Linked DNA regions of Homo sapiens. The protein of the gene in region 6 interacts with the protein of the main gene of each other region in a biochemical or structural test. Each region holds a gene or a part of one and is shown on either strand. Other genes may lie near its edges. The genes, in order: MOB4, MTF1, EIF4EBP1, PPM1F, DCAF1, LATS1 and SMURF2.

The links.
Region 1: the proteins of LATS1 (region 6) and MOB4 form a complex in vitro, tested with the Homo sapiens proteins (one study listed by BioGRID).
Region 2: of the proteins of LATS1 (region 6) and MTF1, one has a biochemical effect on the other in vitro, tested with the Homo sapiens proteins (one study listed by BioGRID).
Region 3: of the proteins of LATS1 (region 6) and EIF4EBP1, one has a biochemical effect on the other in vitro, tested with the Homo sapiens proteins (one study listed by BioGRID).
Region 4: of the proteins of LATS1 (region 6) and PPM1F, one has a biochemical effect on the other in vitro, tested with the Homo sapiens proteins (one study listed by BioGRID).
Region 5: the proteins of LATS1 (region 6) and DCAF1 form a complex in vitro, tested with the Homo sapiens proteins (one study listed by BioGRID).
Region 7: the proteins of LATS1 (region 6) and SMURF2 interact in a test that uses a peptide from one of them, tested with the Homo sapiens proteins (one study listed by BioGRID).

What each region holds. Positions count from the first base shown.
Region 1 is NC_000002.12:197,519,066-197,522,565, forward strand, and holds part of MOB4 (MOB-like protein phocein), read left to right. Parts: intron 1-3,500.
Region 2 is NC_000001.11:37,849,593-37,853,092, forward strand, and holds part of MTF1 (metal regulatory transcription factor 1), read right to left. Parts: intron 1-3,500. UniProt on the Homo sapiens protein: Zinc-dependent transcriptional regulator of cellular adaption to conditions of exposure to heavy metals. Binds to metal responsive elements (MRE) in promoters and activates the transcription of metallothionein genes like metallothionein-2/MT2A.
Region 3 is NC_000008.11:38,054,534-38,057,699, forward strand, and holds part of EIF4EBP1 (eukaryotic translation initiation factor 4E-binding protein 1), read left to right. Parts: intron 1-2,547; coding exon 2,548-2,727; intron 2,728-3,166. UniProt on the Homo sapiens protein: Repressor of translation initiation that regulates EIF4E activity by preventing its assembly into the eIF4F complex: hypophosphorylated form competes with EIF4G1/EIF4G3 and strongly binds to EIF4E, leading to repress translation.
Region 4 is NC_000022.11:21,942,849-21,946,348, reverse strand, and holds part of PPM1F (protein phosphatase 1F), read left to right. Parts: intron 1-240; 5' UTR 241-300; coding exon 301-506; intron 507-2,914; exon of another isoform or gene 2,915-3,500. UniProt on the Homo sapiens protein: Dephosphorylates and concomitantly deactivates CaM-kinase II activated upon autophosphorylation, and CaM-kinases IV and I activated upon phosphorylation by CaM-kinase kinase. Promotes apoptosis.
Region 5 is NC_000003.12:51,420,016-51,423,515, forward strand, and holds part of DCAF1 (DDB1- and CUL4-associated factor 1), read right to left. Parts: intron 2,417-3,500; coding exon 2,292-2,416; intron 983-2,291; coding exon 1-982. UniProt on the Homo sapiens protein: Acts both as a substrate recognition component of E3 ubiquitin-protein ligase complexes and as an atypical serine/threonine-protein kinase, playing key roles in various processes such as cell cycle, telomerase regulation and histone modification.
Region 6 is NC_000006.12:149,676,602-149,680,101, forward strand, and holds part of LATS1 (serine/threonine-protein kinase LATS1), read right to left. Parts: coding exon 3,274-3,500; coding exon of another isoform or gene 3,266-3,273; intron 2,145-3,265; coding exon of another isoform or gene 2,081-2,144; intron 137-2,080; coding exon 1-136. UniProt on the Homo sapiens protein: Negative regulator of YAP1 in the Hippo signaling pathway that plays a pivotal role in organ size control and tumor suppression by restricting proliferation and promoting apoptosis.
Region 7 is NC_000017.11:64,544,545-64,547,307, forward strand, and holds part of SMURF2 (E3 ubiquitin-protein ligase SMURF2), read right to left. Parts: intron 1,795-2,763; coding exon 1,719-1,794; intron 1,404-1,718; coding exon 1,304-1,403; 3' UTR 1-1,303. UniProt on the Homo sapiens protein: E3 ubiquitin-protein ligase which accepts ubiquitin from an E2 ubiquitin-conjugating enzyme in the form of a thioester and then directly transfers the ubiquitin to targeted substrates.

The DNA.
Region 1 (3,500 bases), on a different chromosome or scaffold from region 6:
TTGTATTTTTAGTAGAGATGGGGTTTCAGCGTGTTAGCCAGGTTGGTCTCGAACTCCTGACCTCAAGTGATCTTCCCGCCTCAGCCTCCCAAAGTGCTGGGATTACAGGCGCAAGCCACCACGCTGGGCTTCATAGTTGGTTTTCAATAAATGTTTGTTGGTTGAATTAGATGAGAATCTTTATTAAGCTGAATTTTTGGTGTCTCTCATAGGCATCTAAAATATGTCACAGTTATGAGAAGGCGAAACATTTCATTCTCAACATCTTTTCTATATATAGTCATCATTGGTGTCCTCTGGGGATTGGCTCCAGGATAACTCCGTACCCCCACCCCATACCAAAATCTGAGGATGCTTAAGTTTCTTAAGTAAAATGGCATAGTGTTTGCATATAACCTATGCACATTCTGTTATATAGTTTAAATCAACTCTAGATTACTTAATAATACCTAATGCAATGCGTGTTCTGTAAATAGTTGTTATACTGTATTTAGGGAATAATGACCAAAAAGAAAGCCGGTACATGTTTAGTACATACGCAACTATCTTAGACCTAACTAGGTACATAGTACATGTCAGCAACAATATAACATTTTCTGTATTTTTTTTCTCCCCTGAAATGAATATTTTCAATTCCTGGTTGATTGAATCTGCAGATTAAACCTGCAGATATGGAGGGCCAACTGTACATGTGTTTTCTAATATTTTAAAAACAACATTCTGTAAACTTCCTTAGTTTTTTTAAAAAGGAAAGAATAGACAGAGTATTGGTAGAAACTTTAGATCATATAGGAAAAATTTTAGAATTGCTCTTTAATAGATAATGTCTAAGAAAAGGAATCCTGGAACCATTTCTAGAAGATTGTTTTATTTCTTGATATTTTCCTTTAATAAAATTAGTTCATTTTCATCCAGATAGGCCAGCTATTTCAAAAAAGATGAAATGTTTAAGACACTTAAAAAGGTGTACTCATTACCTACTGTCCAAACGGGGACATTGCTACTATAGTTGAATCCTTATGGAAGACATTCTCTGTCTTCTACCCTATCATTCCTTTTCTTTTCTGTATACTTTTACTATATATGCATTATATCCATAAGTATGCCTTGCACTTAAACTTTTTTTTTTTTTTTTGAGACAGAATCTCGCTCTGTCTCCCAGGCTGGAGTGCAGTGCTGCACTCTCGGCTCACTGCAAACTCCGCTTCCTGGGTTTGCGCCCACCACCACGCCTGGCTAATTTTTTGTATTTTTTCATAGAGATGGGGTTTCACCGTGTTAGCCAGGATGGTCTCGATCTGCTGACCTCATGATCCGCCTGCCTCGGCCTCCCAAAGTGCTGAGCGTGAGCCACCGCGCCCGGCCTAAACTTTATTCATTTTATATACACTGTGTTTACTTCTAATTTGCTTTTTTTGCTCAAGGTTTTGAAGACTTAATCTTTGTTGATTGTTTTTACAGGTTTATATACAGGTTTATAGATTATTGGTTTACTCTTACCTCCTCCCCACCAAGTTTTACCTCAGAGACATTTGAGCTTCAAAGATGTGTCAGGCATTGTGCTACCCACTGAGGTTACATAGGTAAACTTTTCTGAAAAATCAGTCAAATGGAAAGGTTCTTAATCACTTAGGGGAATATCTGTTAACTGTATTATCTACAGAGAATTCCAGAACCAGGGCAAGATGCTCTATAAAAATATCCCCCTTAAGCTGGGCATGGTGGCTCATGCTTGTAATGCCAGCACTTTGGGAGGCTGAGGCTGGAGGATTGTTTGTGACCAGGAGTTTGAGACCAACCTGGCCAACAAAGTGAGACCTCGTCTCTTAAAAAAAAAAAAAAAAAAAAAAAAGAAGAAGAAATAAAAATATTCCCTTTAACAGAAAGCTGGTTTATTTGATGTTTCCTTCTCTTTTTAAAATTTTTGTGGGTATATAGTAGGTGTATATATTTGTAGGTTACATGAGATATTTTGATACAAGCATGCAGTGTATAATAATCACATCAGGGGGGTAAATGGGGTATCCATCACCATAAACATTTGTATCGGGGAACCTGCCCCGATAGTCACGTAGGTTCTTTTCTATTTTCCCTAAGCATCAGCCAGTTTGAGAAATGAAGGGACAGAGTACAAAAGAGAGAAATTTTAAAGTTGGGCGTCCGGGGGAGACATCACATGTCGGTGGGTACCGTGATGCCCCACAAGCTGCAAAACCGGCAAGTTTTTATTAGGGACTTTCAAAAGGGGAGGGAGTGTACAAATAGGGTGTGGGTCACAAAGATCACGTACTTCACAAGGTAATAGAATATCACAAGGGAAATGGAGGCAGGGCGAGATCACAGGACCACAGGACCAGAGCAAAATTAAAATTGCTAATGAAGTTTCGGGCACCATTGTCATTGATAACATCTTATCAGGAGACAGGGTTTTGAGAGCAACCGGTCTGACCAAAATTTATTAGGTGGGAATTTCCTCTTCCTAATAAGCCTGGGAGCACTATGGGAGACTGGGGTTTATTTCACCCCTACAGTTTCGACCATAGAAGACGGCCATACCCAAGGGGGCCGTCTATAGACCCACCCCCAGGCGTGTATTCTCTTTCCCAGGGATGTTCCTTGCTGAGAAAAAGAATTCAGCGATATTTCTCCCATTTGCTTTTGAAAGAAGAGAAATATGGCTCTGTTCCGCCCGGCTCACCAGTGGTCAGAGTTTAAGGTTATCTCTCTTATTCCCTGAACAATTGCTGTTATCCTGTTCTTTTTCCAAGGTGCCCAGATTTCATATTGTTCAAACACACATGCTCTACAGTTTGTGCAGTTAACACAATTATCACAGGGTCCTGAGGTGACATACCTCCTCCTCAGCTGACAGGATTAAGAGATTAAAGACAGGCCTAGGAAATCACAAGGTATTGATTGGGGAAGTGATAAGTGTCCATGAAATCTTCACAATTTGTGTTTAGAGACTGCAGTAAAGACAGGCATAGGAAATTATAAAAGTATTAATTTGGAGAACTAATAAATGTCCATGAAATCTTCACAATCCACATTCTTCTGCCGTGGTTTCAGCCGGTCCCTCAGTTTGGGGTCCCTGACTTCCTGCAACACATTTGTCCTTTATGTTGCAAAAAATTAGATTCTTTTAGTTTTTTTTAAATGTACAATTAAATTGGTTTTTACTATAGTCACCCTATTGTGCTAGCAAATACTAGGTCTTATTCATTCTTTCTATTTTTTTTGTACCCATGGGTGATTACCTTTTTTTTTTTTTTTTTTTTTTTTTGAGATGGAGTCTTGCTCTGTCACCCAGGCTGGAGTGCAGTGGCGTGATCTTGAGTCACCACAGCTTCCGCCTCCTGGGTTCAAGCAATTCTCCTGCCTCAGCCTCCTGAGTAGCTGGGATTACAGGCGCACGCCACCATGCCCGGCTATTTTTTGTATTTTTAGTAGAGACGGGGTTTCATCATGTTGGCCAGGCTGGTCTCGAACTCCTGACCTCA
Region 2 (3,500 bases), on a different chromosome or scaffold from region 6:
AGGTCAGTTAGCCATGGAGGATACATCACGTCACCAATGTAGTGCAGACAGAGGTAGATGAACAGGTAACTAGACCGTCCTGGCAGGTTCTATGGAAGGGCACAGATTCAAGAATGGACTGCACAAACCAACTAAAGAAAACACAGTTGCCAGGTGTGGTAGCTCATGCCTTTAATCCCAGCAGCTCAGGAGGCTAAGGAGGGAGAATTGGTTGAGGCCAGAAGTTCCAGGTTACAGTGAGCTATGATGATGGCCTGGGCAAACATAGCAAGACCCAGTGTCTTAAAAAAATAAAATAAAATACGTAAACAAACAAACAAACAACAAGACGCAGCTGCTTCGAGACTTGGAGTAGAAAGGCCTTAAAGGGCCAGACATGGTGGCTCATGCCGGTAATCACAATACTTTGGGAGGCCAAGGTGGAAGGATTGCGTGAGCCCAGGATTTTGGAACCAGCCCATAGTGAGACCCCTCTCTACCAAAACAACCACCAAAAAGTAGCCGGCACAGTAGCACATGCCTGTGGTCCCAGCTACTGTGGAGGCTGAGGTGGCAGGACGGCTTGAGCCTGGGAGGTTAAGGCTGCAGTGAGCCATGATCGTGCCACTGTACTCCAGCCTGGCTACAGAATGGAACCCTGTCTCAACCAAAAAAAAAAAAAAAAAAAAAAAGCTTTTGTTTTTAGGCAGAATGAAAATATTTTGATTAGAAATTTTGCAAGCTGGCCAAGTGCCATGGCTCATGCCTATAATCCCAGCACTTTGGGAGGTCGAGGCAGGAGGATTGCTTGAGCCCAGGAGTTTGAGGTTACAGTGAGCTACGATCCCACCACTGTAATCACTCCAACCTGTGTGACACAGTGAGACCCTGTTTCAAGAGAGAAAGGAAAGAAGAAAGACAGAAAGGGAAAAGAAGGAAGGAAGGGAGGGAGGAAGGGAATGAGAGAGAGAAAGAGAAAAAAAAGGGAGAGAGAAAGAGAGAGAGAGAGAGAGAGAGATCTCAAAGCTACCAAATCAGTAGGGAGACAGTAATGAAATAACAAGTATGAGAATAAGATACGTGAAATTCGAGTCAGAATGACCAGCGGCCTTGTGGTAGGAAAAGACTATCTGTGGCAAGGTTCTGGTTGGTTTATTTTTTGCGCAAGACAAGCATGAAGAAAAGAAAATGAAGTAATAGGTAAGCCAACTCCACACTATATGAAACAATGAAAAAACCAGGAGTAAACAGGAAATTCAGGCTAAAATGTGACTCAGAAAATAAGCTGCTTGGGAAGCCAAGAAGACCAACTAGTTATCAAATGATTTGATTTCTCAAGAGTAACACCTGTGCATGGAGGGAAAAGAAAAAACCAAAAACCAAGCTGAAAAAAAACGAAAGGAAAAGGAGTAAGGAAGAGCTAAAGGATCATGAAGTCTGTTATCGAGTAGTCATAAACATCAGCCTCTTCAGGCCAAATAAGTGGATTTTAATGCCAAAATAAAATCACTGCCAAAACAAAAGCTAAGCTAAGACAGTGCTTCAGGAAGGCAAGCCTCCTGAATGTCTGGTCATTAAGCAAGATTTTCGAAGACTAAAGCTACTGCTACTTCTCCTTCAATCTCCACCCAACCCCAAACCTACTGATTTCAAGAATATAGCATCTTCCACAAAGGTCTCATGGATAGCATGGAAAAATGTGGGTGAGAGGAAAGTGGAGTGAGCTAAATCCCCAGCAAACTGAACAAAGTGCTCATAATATCCTTGACCCTGTGCTATTCAATATGATTATCAATGATCTGAAGACAAGAATGGCAAACCAGACTTGCAAATAGAATAAACCAATTTGAATAGTACAAAGTGGAAAAGTGACAGCTTTTCACTGATTGCATAATCATTCCCTCTGTACCATCTCCTCCTCTTCTGCCTAGATCAGCATTTCCCAAAATGTGTTCCACAAAACACTGATCCCTGGAAATTAGATCTGAAAAATGGTTTCTCAAGTTTAAAGCATTTGAAAAATTCTGTGTTTTCTTCCTTCTTAGCTGTTGGCACATCAAAGGCTCTGAGAAGTCCTAATCAACAAATTTCTGTCTTGGTTTAACTTAATGTTTCCCGAACATTCGCTCATGAAACACTTTCACACAGTAATCACTGATGGAGGATGGCCTAAAGTTTAGGTCCTAAACTATGTCCAAATTACCTATGCTAAACAAAAATGATTCAATCTCCTTGAGCTAGCTACTACTGCCTCATCACTCTTCTTCCTCTAACTACCAAACTTATTTAAAAAAAAAAAAAAAAGCCAACTTGACATTTCCTGCCTCCTGTTTCCTCATCACTCACTCACTTCTTCATCACTCAAAACCTGGCTTCAGCCCCAGTGCTCTGCTGCAAGTCTTCTCATGATATGTGAACAACTGCACAACCAGCACAACTAAAGGCTTCTTCGGGGCTCCTCAATCCCTCTGCAGGGTCACACAGGAATATTCTCATTTGTTGACACTCTCTTCCTTCAGCTTCCACAACACTGCAGTCGACCCATCTCTTTGACTACTGTGATCTTCTTGGGTTCCTCTTTCTCTTTCCAACCCTTAAATTCTCAGGCCAACTCTTACTTCTCCCTTAAGTAAACTACCCACAGTTTGAAGGCCCCTTTCTACTACTATTCTAACTCCAAACCATTTCTTTGACCTCAGATACACGTTTCCAATGAGCTTTCCATTTGTTCATGTTACTTTTCTCCAAGGACTATACATTCAATACACTCCTACCAAACTCTTTAATTACCCCATCAAAACTTTTTCCTTTTCCCATCTTTCTTGATTCCTATGAATGGGATCACCATTTGGAGGGTGCGGAGAGCAGAGTTAGCCACTTTCTCCTCAGCATGCACACAGCACTTCGAATACACCTCTGTTAAAATATCTACCACAACGGACTCTTAACTGCTTAACTCTTCACCTAGATTTGAGCTCCATCAAAAAGCTGTGCTAAGACACAGCAGAAACTCAACAAATTTGGGAAAATGGATGAATCCTTTCAATCAACATGATTCAAAACCTTTTTTTTTTTTCCAACCAGATTCTCATTTTGTTGCCCAGGCTGGAATGCAGTGGCACAATCATGGCTCACTGCACCCTCCGCCCTCTGGGTTCAAGTGATTCTCCTGCCTCAGCCTCCCAAGTGGCTGGGACTACAGGCATGCACCACCACAACCGGCTAATTTTTGTATTTTTAGTAGAGACAGGGTTTCACCATGTTGGCCAGGCTGGTCTAGAGCTCCAGACCTCAACTGATCCACCTGCCTCTGCCTCCGAAAGTGCTGGGATTACAGGCATGAGCCACTGTGCCTGGCCTATTCAAAACCTTTGAATCATGCCCAACTCATGGCTCATTCATCAAACTCCAATAACACGTACGAAGTTCTCTCGTACTTCTACAAAAGTCCTTGATTCTTCCCATGAACAAGGCCACTATCCTTTCTTCAGATTTAAATGAAACCCCAAACATAAACTACA
Region 3 (3,166 bases), on a different chromosome or scaffold from region 6:
AAAAAAAGTGGTCCCATCTGGAGCCAGGATGTCCAGCCACTTGTCCACTGAGTCCCCACCCCGCTGCCTGGACCCTGGGGTCTCTGGGCTTCCCTCCCCTCTGGGGAGGAGAGATTGTACAACCCCAAGCCTTGCAGAGTGGAGCAGTGCCACATCTGGCCTCTAGAACCAAAACAAATCTGGGTCACTTTTTAAAAAAAAGAGTTAGAAATTGGTCTTCCCTTACCTCCCCTCACTGTCACCCCAGCCCTGCAAAGAGAGGGCACCACTGCTCTCCATTTGTAATCTGGGCTCATAGGCACTCAGACCTAGAAGGTGCATGGGTCTTTATTTTACAGATGAGGAGATGGAGGCCCAAAACAGGGGGTGCAAGGAGCAAGGTGCATAGGGTCACACAGCTGACTGGGAACGGAGCCCAAATGCACCCTGGTTCTTTACACCCCTCCTCCTAAGAAACAGCTGTGCGCTGGAGTCCCATAGGCAATGAGCAGGGCTGTCAGCTTCAGTATCACTGCCTCTCCTGCAAGGGGACAGGAGAGTAAGACCAGTGACTGCCTGGAGGGGCCACAGCCAGACTAGAGGAACACAGCCAGCAGGTGAAGTTTATCTTTAGGTATCTCTCTGCATTCCTCTGCCCTTCAGCATCTCACGTCATCCTCAGCACAGAGCCCCGTTTCAGGAACTCACACTCAGACTCCGAGATGGAAATTGGTTCCTTTCCAGGGGTTTACAGAGTCCAGTGCTGAGCATCAAGAAATGAATCTCAATATGTACAACTATTATGGATCCATAAAAATTAAAAATCAAAAAAGTAAAATAAAGTGTAAGAAATGAATCTCAGCTGTTGGAATGCTACTCATCATAGCCCCTAAGTGAAGGAGAGATTTCAAGGTTATTGCTAAGGAAGGGCATTCCTGAAGTCCTTAAATCATGATTCCCAAACTTGGGTTATTCATATTTTATCTGCACAATTATTACCATACCTTGCATTCCACTTGTACAGATATTTAATATTTCTTTATATCACCTTAGCTTTTGAATTTAATTTACATTATTTTATTATAGAATCTATAATATATTATTATATTATTGTATATTAAAAGGAATTGCTATCACTACTATATATGGAACACCGGATTCACTTGCCATAAATAGAAGGTAGCTATAAAAAGATACAAAGGGGCCGGGCACGGTGGCTCACACCTGTAATCCCAGCACTTTGGGAGGCCGAGGCAGGCAGATCACGAGGTCAAGAGTTTGAGACCAGCCTGGCCAACATGGTGAAATCCCGTCTCTACTAAAGATACAAAAAATTAGCTGGGCATGGTGGCACGCACCTATAATCCCAGCTACTTGGGATGGTGGGGTAGAATTCCAAGGTCAGTGACACACTGGCAGGACACACTGGGGGCCTCACAAAGGAGGGGCTCAGCAGGAGAGCCCACCCTTCACTCCTGCCTCTGGCTCTTCTCCGCAAAGCCCAGGCATTTCTCTCTTTTTTTTTTGGAACTGTCTTTTTGAGATAGGGTCTCACTGCAGCCTGGACCTCCTGGGCTCAAGCAATCCTCCCGTCTCAGCTTCCCGAGTAGCTGGGACTACAGGCACGTACCCATCATGCCCGACTCATTTTAACATTTTTGTAGAGATGAGGTCTCTCTAAGTTGTCCAGGCTAGTCTCAAGCTCCTGGGCTCAAGCAGTCCTCCCACGGTGGCCTCCCAAAGTGCTGAGATTACAGGTGTGAGCTACCACACCTGGCAAAAGTTCTTATTTTTACTACTCTGGTTGAATCACAAGTATTTTCTGTTTGGTCATTTGTAAAATGCAGCTATTCTGGGTATCCCACAGGAGTGCTGTAAGGACAGGACTGAATAATGACTAGAAATGCATTTTTTCCACCGTGGTATGTGATTGTCATGGGTAATTAACACTAAGCCCAGGTGGGTGAGTGAGCTGAGGGGCTATAGGGACAGAGCACAGTGTGCACAGAGCTCTGGGAAGACACAGGTGCAGTTGGTGGCCTGCAGACCCCTTCCATTGGATCATTCCATGTGAAGGGGAGTTGGGGCCGTTTGGAGGTAGCAGAGTTCTGGGTGGCAGCCAGGCCCCCAAATAAGCCTCACTACTCTGGCTTTTTTTTTTTTTTTTTTATGAAAAGGAGTCTCGCTCTGTTACCCAGGCTGGTGTACAGTGGTGCAATCGGCTCACTGCAACCTCTGCCTCCCAGGTTCAAGTGATTCTCCTGCCCCAGCCTCCTGAGTAGCTGGGATTACAGGCTACCACCACCACGCTGGCTAATTTTTGTATTTTTAGTAGAGACGGGGTTTCACCATGTTAGCCAGGCTGGTCTCGAACTCCTGACCTCAGGTGATCCACCCATGTTGGTCTCCCAAAGTGCTGGGATTATGGGCATGAGCCACCGCACCCAGCCTCCTCTGGGTTTTTCAGGAGAATCTGCTGCCTCTACTGCAGCCACGCCTTTAAAAAGTGGAAAAACCGGCAGGCAAGAGGCTGCAGATGGCTTGACCAACCTCCCTGTTCCCTTCTAGGTACCAGGATCATCTATGACCGGAAATTCCTGATGGAGTGTCGGAACTCACCTGTGACCAAAACACCCCCAAGGGATCTGCCCACCATTCCGGGGGTCACCAGCCCTTCCAGTGATGAGCCCCCCATGGAAGCCAGCCAGAGCCACCTGCGCAATAGCCCAGAAGATAAGCGGGCGGGCGGTGAGTGTCGGGGCTTGGCCAGGCTCTACCTTGGGAAAGGGAATGTATGAGGCTCCTGGAGTCCATCCACTGGGGGCAATTCCAGGGAGGAGGAACAACAGGGACTCTGCCCTACCCTCTAAGGAGCAGCTCAGAGCCCAGAGGGTGAGAGTAGGGGTGGGGAGGTTGAACTCTTCATTGGTAGCAACTTTCCCCCTGAAAGGGGCCCAGGCACCTCAGGAAAGGTGATCTGGCACCTTTGGGTCATGTAATTAGCGGGGAGTTTGTTTGAAATGGCAGCGGCTGCACACAGCAACTTTCGTAAGCATGTGCCTCTGTATAATTGTCTCTGAAGCATTTCCACTTGGAACACACCCATGATGTTTGTGGTGCAAGAGACAAGTTATCAAAGACACAGTGTACTTGTCCTTTGGGAAATTATATGTCTACAAGATAAGAA
Region 4 (3,500 bases), on a different chromosome or scaffold from region 6:
CACTTCTTGACAATGTCCACCCAGCTGCTGCTCCTGGCACCATCTCCTGAGACCGGATCTCTGGATGCCCACAAGTCCCCACCTGGACTCATGTCAAAACAGTGGCCAGGGTTGTCCCTCCACCCTCTAGTGGCCCTGAACCATGAGGCCATGCACCTGCCACATGGTGCTTGCAGGTGGGCACCTGCATTGCTGGTGCCATGGCCCCCTGATTCTGCTGACTCTGACATTTCTCCCCAGGGTGAAGCCTGGAGACCCTCTTGCCCTGGCCTAGCTGCAGGCCCCCGGGATGCTTTGGGCATGTCCTCTGGAGCCCCACAGAAGAGCAGCCCAATGGCCAGTGGAGCTGAGGAGACCCCAGGCTTCCTGGACACGCTCCTGCAAGACTTCCCAGCCCTGCTGAACCCAGAGGACCCTCTGCCATGGAAGGCCCCAGGGACGGTGCTCAGCCAGGAGGAGGTGGAGGGCGAGCTGGCTGAGCTGGCCATGGGCTTTCTGGGCAGCAGGTAGGCCTGTGCACCCCCAAAGGGGACGGGGAGTAAGGGCACGGCACCAGGGCCGACAAGGGATGTGGCTGCTGCTCCCCTACACGTCCAGCCCCACACGGGGATCTGCAGCCCCGGATCCCTATGCAGCACCATGTGGAACTCCCGTGGCTGCTATGGCAAAGCACCACACACTGGGCACTCAACACAGCCAAAGCTCATTCTTTCACAGGGCTGGAGGCCAGAGTCCAAGATCAAGGTGGCAGCTGCGCCATGCTCTCTCAAAGGCTGCAGGGAAGAGTCTGCCTTTCTGTTAGTGCCTGGCCTTGACTTCCTGGAGGTCCTTGGCTTGTAGACTCATTCCTCCTAGCTGGCCTTGTTGCACACGGCATCTCCCCATGTGTGTGTCTGTGCCTTCACACCTCCCCACCCTGCCTGCTGTGTGTCTGTGACTCCTCCTCTTGTAAGGACATGGGCATTTTGGACCAGGGGCTGCCCTCCTACAGTGTGATCTCATCTTTCTTTTTGTGGAGAATGGGGTCTCGCTATGCTGCCCAGGCTGGTCTCGAATTTCTGGGCTCCATGGATCCTCATGTTTTTGCCTCCCTAAATGCTGGGATTACAGGCATGAGCCACTCCAGCCAATGTGACCTCATGTGAACATAACTAATTACATTTGCAAAGACTTTAACTCCAAATAAGATCATATTCTGAGCCACAGGGGGCTGGGGCTTCAACATACCTTTTAGGGAACACAATTTATTGCATAGCAGCTGATAAGCAGTACGTCCTGTTTCCGATCCGTGTGATGGACGAGGAGGCAGAGGTGGGTAGATGAAGAGGCTGGCCTGAGGCCTTACAGTCAAGGAGTGGCAGAGCCACATGGCACCCCAGCCACCACGATCTGAGAGATAGCTGGCACTGTCCCCCTTCCACAGGTGAGGAAGCTGAGGCACAGAGAGGTAGCACAACTAGCCGAGCAGATTTCGGGGAAGATAGAGAGTTGGGTGTCCACCGGCAGACAGTGTGTAGCTGTCGCCTAGGCTGAACTCAGAGGTCCTTTCCTTGGAAGACCCTTGCCCTCCCCTTCATTTATTCATTCATTCTGGAAGCATTTGTCCCATGAAAGATGGTGAAGGACAAGGTCTTTTCTCGAACCCTCTCTGCTCAGACAGGGTCTTGGAGTTAGGCTGTCTGTCTGGCACAGGGGACAGCTCATGGAGGTGAGCAGGCTGGTGGGCCGCGTGCTGTTTCTGTGAACCTAGTCCCTTGCTGAGGGGATGTGCGCATGGTCCCCAGTCCCAGCATCACCCAAATCACCTGAAATATCACCTGAAGCCATGACAGGCCCTCAGCCATAGCTCCCTCTGACAGAGCCACCATCCTCGGTGGCTGCCTCAGTATCCCCCAAGTGTGCACTTCCTTTGCCCCTTGCAGCGAATCAACTCTGTTCCTGACACCCACCAAGGGCCTATTTTCCTTGACCCCAGGCCCTAGCAGAGTCAGTGACTTGTGCTCTCCCTGTGCAACATGGGCACAAACATTGCTAAGTGTCAGCCACATGCAAGGGCTATGCCACCCAGCATCCCCCACAGCTGCCTAGAGCTCAGGAGGAAATGTCCGGTGACCACGCTCCATGAGGTCATGGCATGCGCAAAGGGTGTTATTGGCTTGTTTTGAGGAAATATTTTAGATATGTGGCACAAAGTGAATCAGCCCCCAGTGGTGGAGCAGAGTGGGCCCAGCAGGGGTGCCAATGCACGGGAGGTGAGGAAAGGCCTCACGTTCTGCCTTCTTGAGAGGAGCAGGTGGCACTCTGCAGGGAGCAGGGGAGTCCAGACCAGGGAGTTCTGCAGCCACTGGGTCTTCGTGGAGGTGGCATGGGGCCATTGCTGCCTTGAGGCAAAAAGCCAGGCCCGGGACAGAAGGGTTGGTGCACTTTGGCCCAAGCATGAGGTGACCGGGCAAAGCCAAGCGGTGCCAGCCCCAAGCTGGGGATCAGATGGAAAAGCCATCCCGGGGAACAACAGAGCCCAGGGGTTTGCTGGGCCTGCGTGGGGCACAGGTGCTGAAGACGGACAGGCCGCAGCACCGGGGTGACAACATCAGCCTTCAGTTCCTGGGCAGGGGGAGAAGGGCGCAGAGCAGGGTCCCAGGGAAGGATCCAAGGTGGGAGGGCCTGGAGGGCTGAGGAGTGAGTAGGCAGTGCAGGTGACCTGCCCAGGAGGGCCCCGAACCAAAGTGTTGGGGTCAGTGCTGGGGGCGCAGGGGAGGGCAGTGGGTTTTGGTTTTGATGCGAGAGCAGCCAGACTTGTTGAGCGGCTGCTGTGTGAGCCACCTAGTGATGGGTGCGAGCAGGAGGGGTGCAGAGCTCCCGAGTCTCCTCAGCCCCCAGGAACCCACCTTACATGGTGAACTAAAATGGAGTATTTGAAGTTGTTATATGTTCCAGCCATCTTATTGGATTTATTTTTTAAGTTATTTTTGTTCTTTTCTAGCATCTTCTTTCACACGCAGGTGTGGATGTGCATAGGTGTAGTCAGCACTTGGGGTCTGAGCCTCACACGTTGTCTACACTAAGCCTGGCTGTCCACACACACGCACTCACATGTGCCCATACACAGTCACGAGTTCCACCTCCGAGCTCTGCTTCCCGTGTCCCAGCCTGAGGAGGGGCTCTTGGGCATGAAGGGCTTTGAGCATCTTGGTCCCTGAGCTCTTTCACAGACCGTAAAAGGCATCCTTCTGGAGGCCATCCAGGAGTCAGAACATCCAGTCCACAGGGGGCTATTTACGCCTTGTCTCCGCTCTTGTTTGGAGCCTCCTGTCACATATTTGAGTCCCTGAGCAGTGCATACCGTACACTAATGATTTGAGTGTGGTTTTTGTCTCTGCCACTAGACTATAAGCCTCTTGTAACAGCCCCTGCCCCAAGGTCGGTGAGACGTGTTTCTCAGGCACCTGGGCCTTGCATACACCTTGGCTTGTCCCTGGAGCATCTTCTTGCCTTGTGTA
Region 5 (3,500 bases), on a different chromosome or scaffold from region 6:
CTGTAGGCACCATGGTCCGACTTCTGCCGCAACACTCTGATTTTCCTGCCATTGCAGGGTGATGGCCTCTCTCTGATAAAACTGATTCTACCAATCAAAGGGGAGTTGCCTGCATAAGATGGGCCGGGCAGAGCTAGCGGACCCTGGGGGGGCCGTGGCTGAGGATGAGCAGTAGGGGCAGAAGGCGCAGAGGCACCCACAGCAGCATGGCTGCCCAGACGAGTTGCAATGCCATTAGCGATACGAGGGGTTCGGGGTAGAGAGACAGGAGAAGCAGCAGCAGTGACTGGGGTAAAGGCAGAAGAATGGGAGGCAGCAGTCATGGGCAGGTCAGCCTCTTTTGTCAGCACGGTTGCTGTTTCTCCAAGCCCTTTAGAAATAAGATGGTTTCGTATCAACAAAAGCAGCTCTTTCTCAGGGAAGGAGATCCTTGACTGGGCAACAACATCTGCTTTCTGCAGTCGTGCTAGGGAAACATCAGTGCCAATGAGAAGTGGTTTTCCTGACACCCGTTCAATGAGTTCAGCAGCATACTTGCAGAACTTGACATGGTCACTGCGCTTGTCCTGCAGCACAGGCTCCTTCATCAGCTGCTGGATCTGGCAGCTGCTGAAAAGGGGCAGTTTACTGATGATCTGCCGGACAGTGCTACTGCGAGACAGGCCCACTAGGGCTTTGCAGGCCAGGGCCCGGATTTGGTCTGCATCTGTGATGGGCATCTTAATGGACAGTAAGGACAGGAGCACCTTGATGCCGTTGTTGGACTGAACCACATTCCACATCTTGGCCAGGGTGTGCTCACTGCTTTTAGGGTTCTGAGGCAGCTTTCTCCGAGGAGTACCAGAGATAAATTTACCAATACTGGATATTCGGTTATCTGGGCCACACACACAATTGATGATAATCTGAAGTGCTGACTTCTGAATTTCAGCATCATGGATGAAGAACTCACCCTCAGCCACTCCCAAAATAATGCTGATACCTAATGGGAAAAAAAATTATGTATTATTCACCATAAAACTAATGGCCAACTTCAATAGTTGTTCCAGAGTCAAAATTTGGTGTTCTACTCACTTTTACTTTAAAAAACTATATTACTTTTGTAAAAACTGCAAGGGTTTGTATAAAGTGCAGACAGTTCTACTACAATGTATTTTTATGGTATCTCATATGCAGTTATTAAATAGGGAAATCATGTCATAATTATGGAAAAGTAATCAAGGTTCATGTGCAATTTTTTCTGGTTTTATTATTTTTTTGAGGCAGAGTCTCGCTCTGTCGCCCAAGCTGGAGTGCAGTGGCGTGATCTTGGCTCACTGCAACCTCCGCCTCCCGAGTTCAAGTGATTCTCCTGCCTCATCCCTGCAAAGAGCTGGGATTACAGGCGCCTGTCACCACGCCCAGCTAATTTTTGTATTTTTAGTAGAGGTGGGGTTTCACCATGTTGGCCAGTCTGGTCTGGAACTCCTGACCTCAGGTGATCCACCCGCCTCGGCCTCCCAAAGTTTTGGGATTACAGGTGTGAGCCACTGTGCTCGACCTTTTCTGGTTTATTAATTTTAATACACTAAAACCTTAGGAACGGAGAAAGCCCTCGGTTGGGCTGCTACTGTGGAAGCAGAACCCTTTCCACTCTATTTTAAGAAAATTAAAAACCAAGTGCCTGTGTCTTAGTCCTATCCTGCATCTTGTCCCATCACACGACTTCCCATGCTCACCCCAGCAGTGCCCTGATCAGCCTTGCTCTTAATAAAGTATATTATCAAAGTATATTTTCCTTTTTTTATATATGTATGACGGTTTCTACCCATTTTGAGCTACCTGCCAATTACTGACTCAGGTTACAAAACTGCTTACTTTGTTGTTTTTTTTTCCCTTTAACTCCTGGAAAGCTGTGATGCTTAAGTTTTTTACTATCTGCCTCAACCCATTTTTCCCATGAACTTTATTTTTAGTGCAAGACTCTTCAGAGTGTGAGCTTTTCAGGAAAGCTATAATATACCATTATAGCAGAAATGCCAGTACCACTCAGAAAACCTGAGTTTACTAGCATGACTCCCTTACATCAAACTATCTGGTCCTACATTTGTATTTTTGTTTTTTGGTTTTTTTTTTTAAATTAGTTCCTGATCTGCTGAATGGTACTCCTTATAAAGGACAGACAAGGAGCCCCCCTCTACTACTTCTGTTCTAAAATCCAAAATTAGGTCAGGTAAGTAACCAAGACCAGAGTGGCAAAGAAAAAACAAATCCAGACCAAGAAACAACAAAAATGGCAAAGTACAACCTACCTACAGTAGAGACTGTAGATCCAGCCTCATCCAACACGTCCACTGATTCTGCCAACTGGAGCTGGATTTTTGGCACCACAGTAAGAATAGCCAGGACATCCAAAGCAAAGCGCACAGTGTCATTCCTGGACAGGAAGAATTAGTCAAAGGGAAATTAGAGTATAGCCACAAGAATCAAGAGAGACAGAGAGAGAGACACACAGACAGATAGACACATACACACAGAGACAATAAATCAGAAGCACTACCAGTGTGGCTCTATCTCAAGCTGTCGCATCAAGAGAGGATTTTATAGTCACCATGACATTACTTCCAAAAAATATAGCAATGGAATTTTTACCTATTAAACTTCTATGATAAAAAACATAGAATAATCCTGAATCCTTTCATCCTAGTGAAAACATATAGAGACACGTACTCTCAAAGTTTTGGTGAGAGTAGAAATTAGTACACTCTTTCCAGAAAGTAATCTGGAGGCCAGGCACGGTGGCTCAAGCCTATAATCCCAACACTTTAGGAGGCCAAGGTGGGAGGATCACTTGAACCCAGGAGTTTGAGACCAGAATGGGCAACATGGTTTTATCTTTTTCTATAAAAAAAAAATATAAGATATTAGCCGGGTGTGGTAGCACGTGCCTGTAGTCCCAGCTTCTCAGGAGGCTGAGGTGGGAGGATCACCTATGCCCAGGAAGTTGAGGCTGTGGTGAGCCGTGATTACACCACTGCACTCCAGTCTGGGCAACAGAGTGAGAGCCTGTCTCGAAAAACAAAAAAAAAGAAAAATGAAAAAAAAGAAGAAAAAGAAAGTAATCTGGAAATATGAAACAAGATTCTTAAAATGTTCATAAACCTTGTCCTAGAAATTTCACCTCTGACAATCTGTCCTAAAGAAATAATCAGGCCAGGGCCAGGCGTGGTCTCATGCCTGTAATCCTAGTGCTTTGGGAGGCTGAGGCGGGCAGATTGCCTGAGCTCAGGAGTTCAAGACTAGCCTGGGCAACATGGCCAAACCCTGTCACTACTAAAATAAAAATTAAAAAAATAAATTACCCAGGCTTAGTGGCGGGCGCCTGTAGTCCCAGCTACTCGGGAGGTTGAGGCAGGAGAATTGCTTGAACCCAGGAGGCGGAAGTTGCAGTGAGCTGAGATTGAGCCACCGCACTCCAGCTCGGGCCACAGAGAGAGACTCTGTCTCCACAAAAAAAAAAA
Region 6 (3,500 bases):
AAAGAATGTGCTAGACATCGCTGGTGCTGGCGTGCAGCTCTCCGCTCTAATGGCTTCAGTCTGTCTCCACATCGACAGCTTGAGGGATCCCCCCATTCATTACTGAAATCCATGCTATCTTGCCGTGGATGGTCACCTGCACAACAAAAGAATAAGTAAATAAAGTCAACAATGACAACAGTAAACCTGAAGTCTATTTAATCTTCTGACATCGTGGTTTAGGGTTAACAACATTCTCCCTTGTGACAAACTAAGACACAATGTATGCCAAATCACTGATGGTGTTTATTACCAATTAGAGCCTATTTTCTGAGATGTCAATAGGAAGGATTTTACACTTAAAAAAAATTAGCCTAAGATTTAGTAATTTATGCAATGTTAAATAACAACAATATGAGTCATGGGGAGATTAAGAGTTTGTTATTTAGCCCACTCCCTGTTACTACTCTGGACAAACTTTCAAACAAATTAGATCCATCTTTCATTCAATAAATGACAGTGATAATAAGACAAAGCTCTGGTTACATTCTAGTAGGAAAAGAAACAAAACAATTACACATATAAGGAACAGTGACATACCCTACACAGAGAATCAACACAGGGTGATGTAACAAATGTGACTGGATAGCTACATAAGACTGAATGGCTAGGGAAGACCAGTTAAGAAGGTGACTTCAGCTAAACCGTAAAAAAACAAGAAGGACTCAACCATTTATAAATCAGGATTAGGTATTCCACACAGAAATAACAGCAACAGAGAGAAGACCAGCACAGCTGATAAAGGGGAGAACTGTAGGAAATGGGGCAAGAACTGTAAGAAATGCGGCAGGAATACATGTGGGTTTTGCAAGCAATAGAAATGGTCTGCCTTTTACCTCAAGTAAAGTGAGAAGATATTGCAGAGTTCGAAGCAAGAAGATAACAGTATCTGATTTATGCTTAAAAAAAAAAGTTCTTTATGGGTCATGTGAAGTTTGAAAGGCCTATTTGAAATCCATGTGAAGATAGCCAGGAAGCAGCTGGATAGAGAAATTACGAATTTCAGAGAAAGGCCATTTCTGGAGAGAGAGATTTGGAATTCATTGACATATAGATGGCATGAAGTCACCTAGAATATAAGAAATTAACCTAACTGTAATATTTATCTGGGATGTTTGATTAAAATATGATTTCCCTTTGGGAGGCCAGGGAGGGTGGATCATGAGGTCAAGAGATTGAGACCATCCTGGCCAACATGGTGAAACCCCATCTCTACTAAAAATACAAAAATTAGCTGGGTGTGGTGGAGCACACTTGTAATTCCAGCTACTTGGGAGGCTGAAGCAGGAGAATCGCTTGAGCCCAGGAGATGGAGGTTGCAGTGGGCCGAGATCGCGCCACTGCACTCCAGCCTGGCAACAGACCAAAACTCCGTCTCAAAAAAAAAAAAACAAACAGGCTGGGCGTGGTCGCTCACGCCTGTAATCCCAGCCACTTTGGGAGGCAGAGGCAGGCAAATCATGAGGTCAGAAGATTGAGACCGTCCTGGCTAACACGGTGAAACCTGGTCTCTACTAAAAATCCAAAAAAAAAAAAAAAAAAAAAAAAAAAAAAATAGCCGGGCGTGGTTGCCGGCGGCTGTAGTCCCAACTACTCGGGAAGCTGAGGCAAGAGAATGGCGTGAACCTGGGAGGCAGAGCTAGCAGTGAGCCGAGATTGCGCCACTGCACTCCAGCCTGGGCAACAGAGCGAGACTCCGTCTCAAAAACAAACAAACAAACAAACAAAAAACAACAAAAAGATTTCTATGCCCCAGTGAAGATTTTTGATCAAAAGATGGGAATAGAGCCTAGGAATCATATTTTTAAGAAGCTTTCCAGGTAATAATTCAGTCGAATCTGGGAAGACACTAAATTCCACTATGTCGAACATTAAAGTAGGTTCAATTGTCTCAGTTCTACCCATTTTAATGTCAATCTACTTGTGTTCACAGAAGCACAGGAGGCTAATAATACTTACCTCAGAGAATTGTTGCGAGCATATTAGAATATATGGTTAAGCACCTAGTACATAGTATTTAACAAATGTTAGATTGACTTACACTTCCATTAGCGCTTGGAGGGATCTTGGTGAGGCAGTGTGGTGTAGTAGAAATAACATGGGCCCTGAAATCAGACAAACCTGGGTTCAAAGCCTAGCCCTTACACTTGATTTCTGTCTGACCTTGGGCAAGTTACTTCATCTAACTAGGTCTCAGTTTCTTCATCCTGCCTCACAGTGACATTGTGAGGATAAAATAGGATCAAGGATCATAAAGTGTTTAGGGTTATATAAGTTGTGTAACAGTCATGTAATGAAATCCTAAATAGTAGTGAAAATAAATGTTACAAGCAATAACATGGAGGAACCTCAAACAAGTCAACACAAAGAATATATATAGATTATATTTAAATAAAGGTTAAAGAGTAGGCAAAATGAAATAATATATTATTTAAAGATATACACATTTGTGATAAAAGGATCGATAAAAGTAAAGAACCGATTATAAAGTTCTGAAATAATAATTATCTTTGTGGAGGAGAAAAGGGGAAGTGATTGTTTAAGGGCTTCTAAAGTACTGATAATCTAGTTCTTTAACTGAATGTTGGATATGAGGATTCATTAAAAAATTATTTTAAAAATGTTTTTGGCCAGGCGCAGGGGGCTCACACCTATAATCTCAGCACTTTGGGTGGCTGAGACAGGTGGATCACCTGAGGTCAGGAGTTCGAGATCAGCCTGGCCAACATGGTGAAACCCCATCTCTATTAAAAATACAAAAATTAGCCGGGCGTACTGGCAGGTGCTTATAATCCCAGCTACTCGGGAGGCTGAGGCAGGAGAATCACTTGAACCCAGGAGGGGGATATTGCAGTGAGCCAAGATGGTGCCACTGCACTCCAGCCTGGGCGACAGAGCGAGACTCCATCAAAAAAAAAAAAAAAAAAAAATTGTTTGTCTGGCATATTTTCAAATAAAATGTAAAAGGTGTGACTCAAAAATGTTAATAATATTTAGAAACAATCAAGTCTAGCACATTCTTTCATTTCATAAGTCTAAACAATCAAGTCTAGCACATTCTTTCATTTCATAAGTCTAAGTGCCTAATGGAGTCACCCAAGTTTATCCAACAGAATCAAGACCTGACCCACATCTTCTGGCTCTCATCCAGTGATGATACCATCTTATATTTTACTACATCAATAAATTACATTATTATGAACAAACTAAAATAAATTTTATGAGTTTACTTACCACTCTGATAGTACTTAGAATCGTGTGTCCATCTGAAGCCAGTGCAGAGGCCAAAGTCAGTCAATTTAATATGACCATCACGATCAATCAAAATATTATCAGGTTTAATATCTCTATGAATAAAACCCATTTTATGAACACTTTCAACTGCACAGGTAAGTTCTGCTATGTAGAATCGTGCCAGACTTTCTGGAAAGATGCCCATTCTAATTAATAGGCTCATCATA
Region 7 (2,763 bases), on a different chromosome or scaffold from region 6:
TGGATCATTCAACATGCACGCACCTTGAAAGCTAAATCTGGACGTTTCAAAATCAGATGCAGATCTTCAACACCAAGGGAAGCGGGATTCCCTTACTTCCAAAATGAACTCTTCAAAGTAATTTACGCCATAGAGTTAGAATCACTGTTCATACTACCGCCCCTCAACCCCACTTCATTCTGTTAGGTAAAAGCAGGATTTTCTAAGCTTATTAATAATCTTTAGAGCAAAATTCTTCCTTTTTCATAACTGTAGCTGATTAAAATTATGAGCAGTTAACGCTTTAGGATGGTTTTGTTAATGGAAACTTACACTGTAGTTAAAATACAATATAAATTAGGTGCACTTGTCAGAGACTTTGGTTTATAGGAATAGTCCATATATTAAAGATAAGCTGACCCAGCAAAATAACGAAAATCCCATCCCATCCACATGCTCTGAGAAGCTATAAAAATGCAGTATTTTAAGATTAAAAGTAAATCCAAAATACCTAATCATATTGACTCAAGATAAAAACATTAGGTTTTTTTTTTTTTAAAAGAGTCTCTTAAAAACAGGGAGCCCCTGAACACATCTTATTGTCACAAATAAATGACTAAGTTTAGACTAAATGGTTGCATTAGGAATTTGACAACCAAAATTATATCGCTGTATTCCAGGAAATCCGTTCTTGAAAAATGTAAAAAAGACCCACTTAGACTAGGTTGAAACATATAATGCAAAATATAATGCTCTGCTATAGAAAAACACAAACATGTAAATGGCTTAATTTCTTAAAGATGATTCTTTTAGCCAATTGTTTACAAAGGTAGAATAATTCAAAATAATTTTATTTTTTTTTACAAAGAGCAAGTACAGGAGCTGTTCAAGATCATGTATTCAATCAAAATGAAATGTGACTTGTACCGACTGCTGAAGTTGTCTTGATGTTTGAGAGACTTGAAATCTGTGAAGAAATTTGAATAGATTACCTTTTATAAAAATAGTAGTAGTCTTTAAGTGTAGAATACTGCCTAACTCTGGAAATGTAGGAAAAGTCAGCATTCTTTAGGTTCAAGATATTAAGTTTAAATAGCAGCTGAATGTGGCCTCATGGCAAAGCATAAAGACCTTTTTTTTCCTTGAAAAGGAATTTCAAAATTGTCCTTTCCCCTCACAGTGTCCTAAAATGTAAAAAAAAAAAAAAAAAGGGGGGGGGGGGGAGTGTTTTCCTGTATTTCAGCATATTCTTTGAAACTCTGCTGAAAGGAGGCTGTCAGTCAGGGTTGTATAAATAGAGTCCTGGGTAAATCCTTGAAGCTTGTCATTCCACAGCAAATCCACATGTTTCTTCAATGGCTGTTAGCAGCTTTTCATATAGCTTTTCATAGCTTTCATAGGGTGGAATGTCTATTCGATTGAAGCTGTGAATAAGCAAATCAAATTTTATACAGTTCATTCAAAATAAGTAAACTGGCCTAGCAAGTGTATACCAGTATAGCCACATCACTCTGTGTCACACAGAAAACTAAAAGGTATTTCTCTAAAACAGAGATGACCACTTTTGGGTTTTCCTACCAATTTCCGAATAATCTTAACTTTTAAATCACTTAAGTTGCTTATCATTCCCTTTAAAGGCCCATTTAACACTAGTAAGTACAATAAATAAAAAGTCAAATCTGTTTGGAACTAACACTTATGTACATGGAATGGGGAATACAGCTACAAAAATACCTTACCAAGTGTGGGCTTTCGGCAGGTTGTTAGTGCAGGCATCAATCTGGTGTATGGTAAAGAGTCTCGGGCCTGCAGCACCTGCAAATGAAGGAAATGTGGATGAAATCACTGCAGGTGCGTGCATTAGTCTCCAAAATCTTAAGAATAAAACTGGTAAGTTAACCACAGGATCTGGGGATAGGGGAATGCTAATGAATCCACACATACTACCAAAGGGCAGCAGGAAAAGCATCTGGGTTTTAAGAGCCAGAATTAACCTTGGATAAGGCTTAGATTCCGTAATAGGTTCACATTTCCATTTGAGAAAAAACTCAAGATTGAAATCCCTTTCTCAATTTCTATCTTTTATAGAAAGTCAATATCCCAAAAGCATGAGAAGAAAAGTAATCAGGCAAATCCAAGGTAAAATACATAGGCACACATTCAAAAAGATGACGACCTGATGCAAATTTAGATTTCATGACTCAAACTGGGCTGACAGCAAAAGAGCCGTCTATAGAATCCATTTCAGTTCGCACAGGCACCCCATATAAATACATGTAGCAGAAATACAACTTCACTTTATGCATCTGGGAAGTGTGAGGATGAGGAGCTCTCCTTACAGAGAAGGGCAGCACAGCTGAAAGCACGCTCTCCCCCCAGGGATTTCAGCGCATGCGCTGTGGGCAGCACTGTCGAATTATGTACCAGTGTCGCTTTGTGTGTCCTTATTCATCACCAGCAGCTTTGAAAATGAAGTGCTTAAGAGGTAAAGGAAGCAACTGCCACCCAGTGAAGCACCACAATCATTAGCAATATTACCAGCTCCTCCCAAAATTAACCAGCTTATTCCACAGAAAACCATTCTTAAAAAAGGAATATGGTTGTAAACAAATGGTCTGATGCCATGCAGTAATTAAAATGCTCTGACCGAACAGATGGTTTCCATGACCCATGCTGCTTCTGTCTAATAAGAGAAAGAACGAAAAGTAGAGGGGAGAGGCATCCCAGGCAGGTAAACGTTTCACCAGGTCAAGATGTGAACATGGAAGTGAACGACTTCCCTAC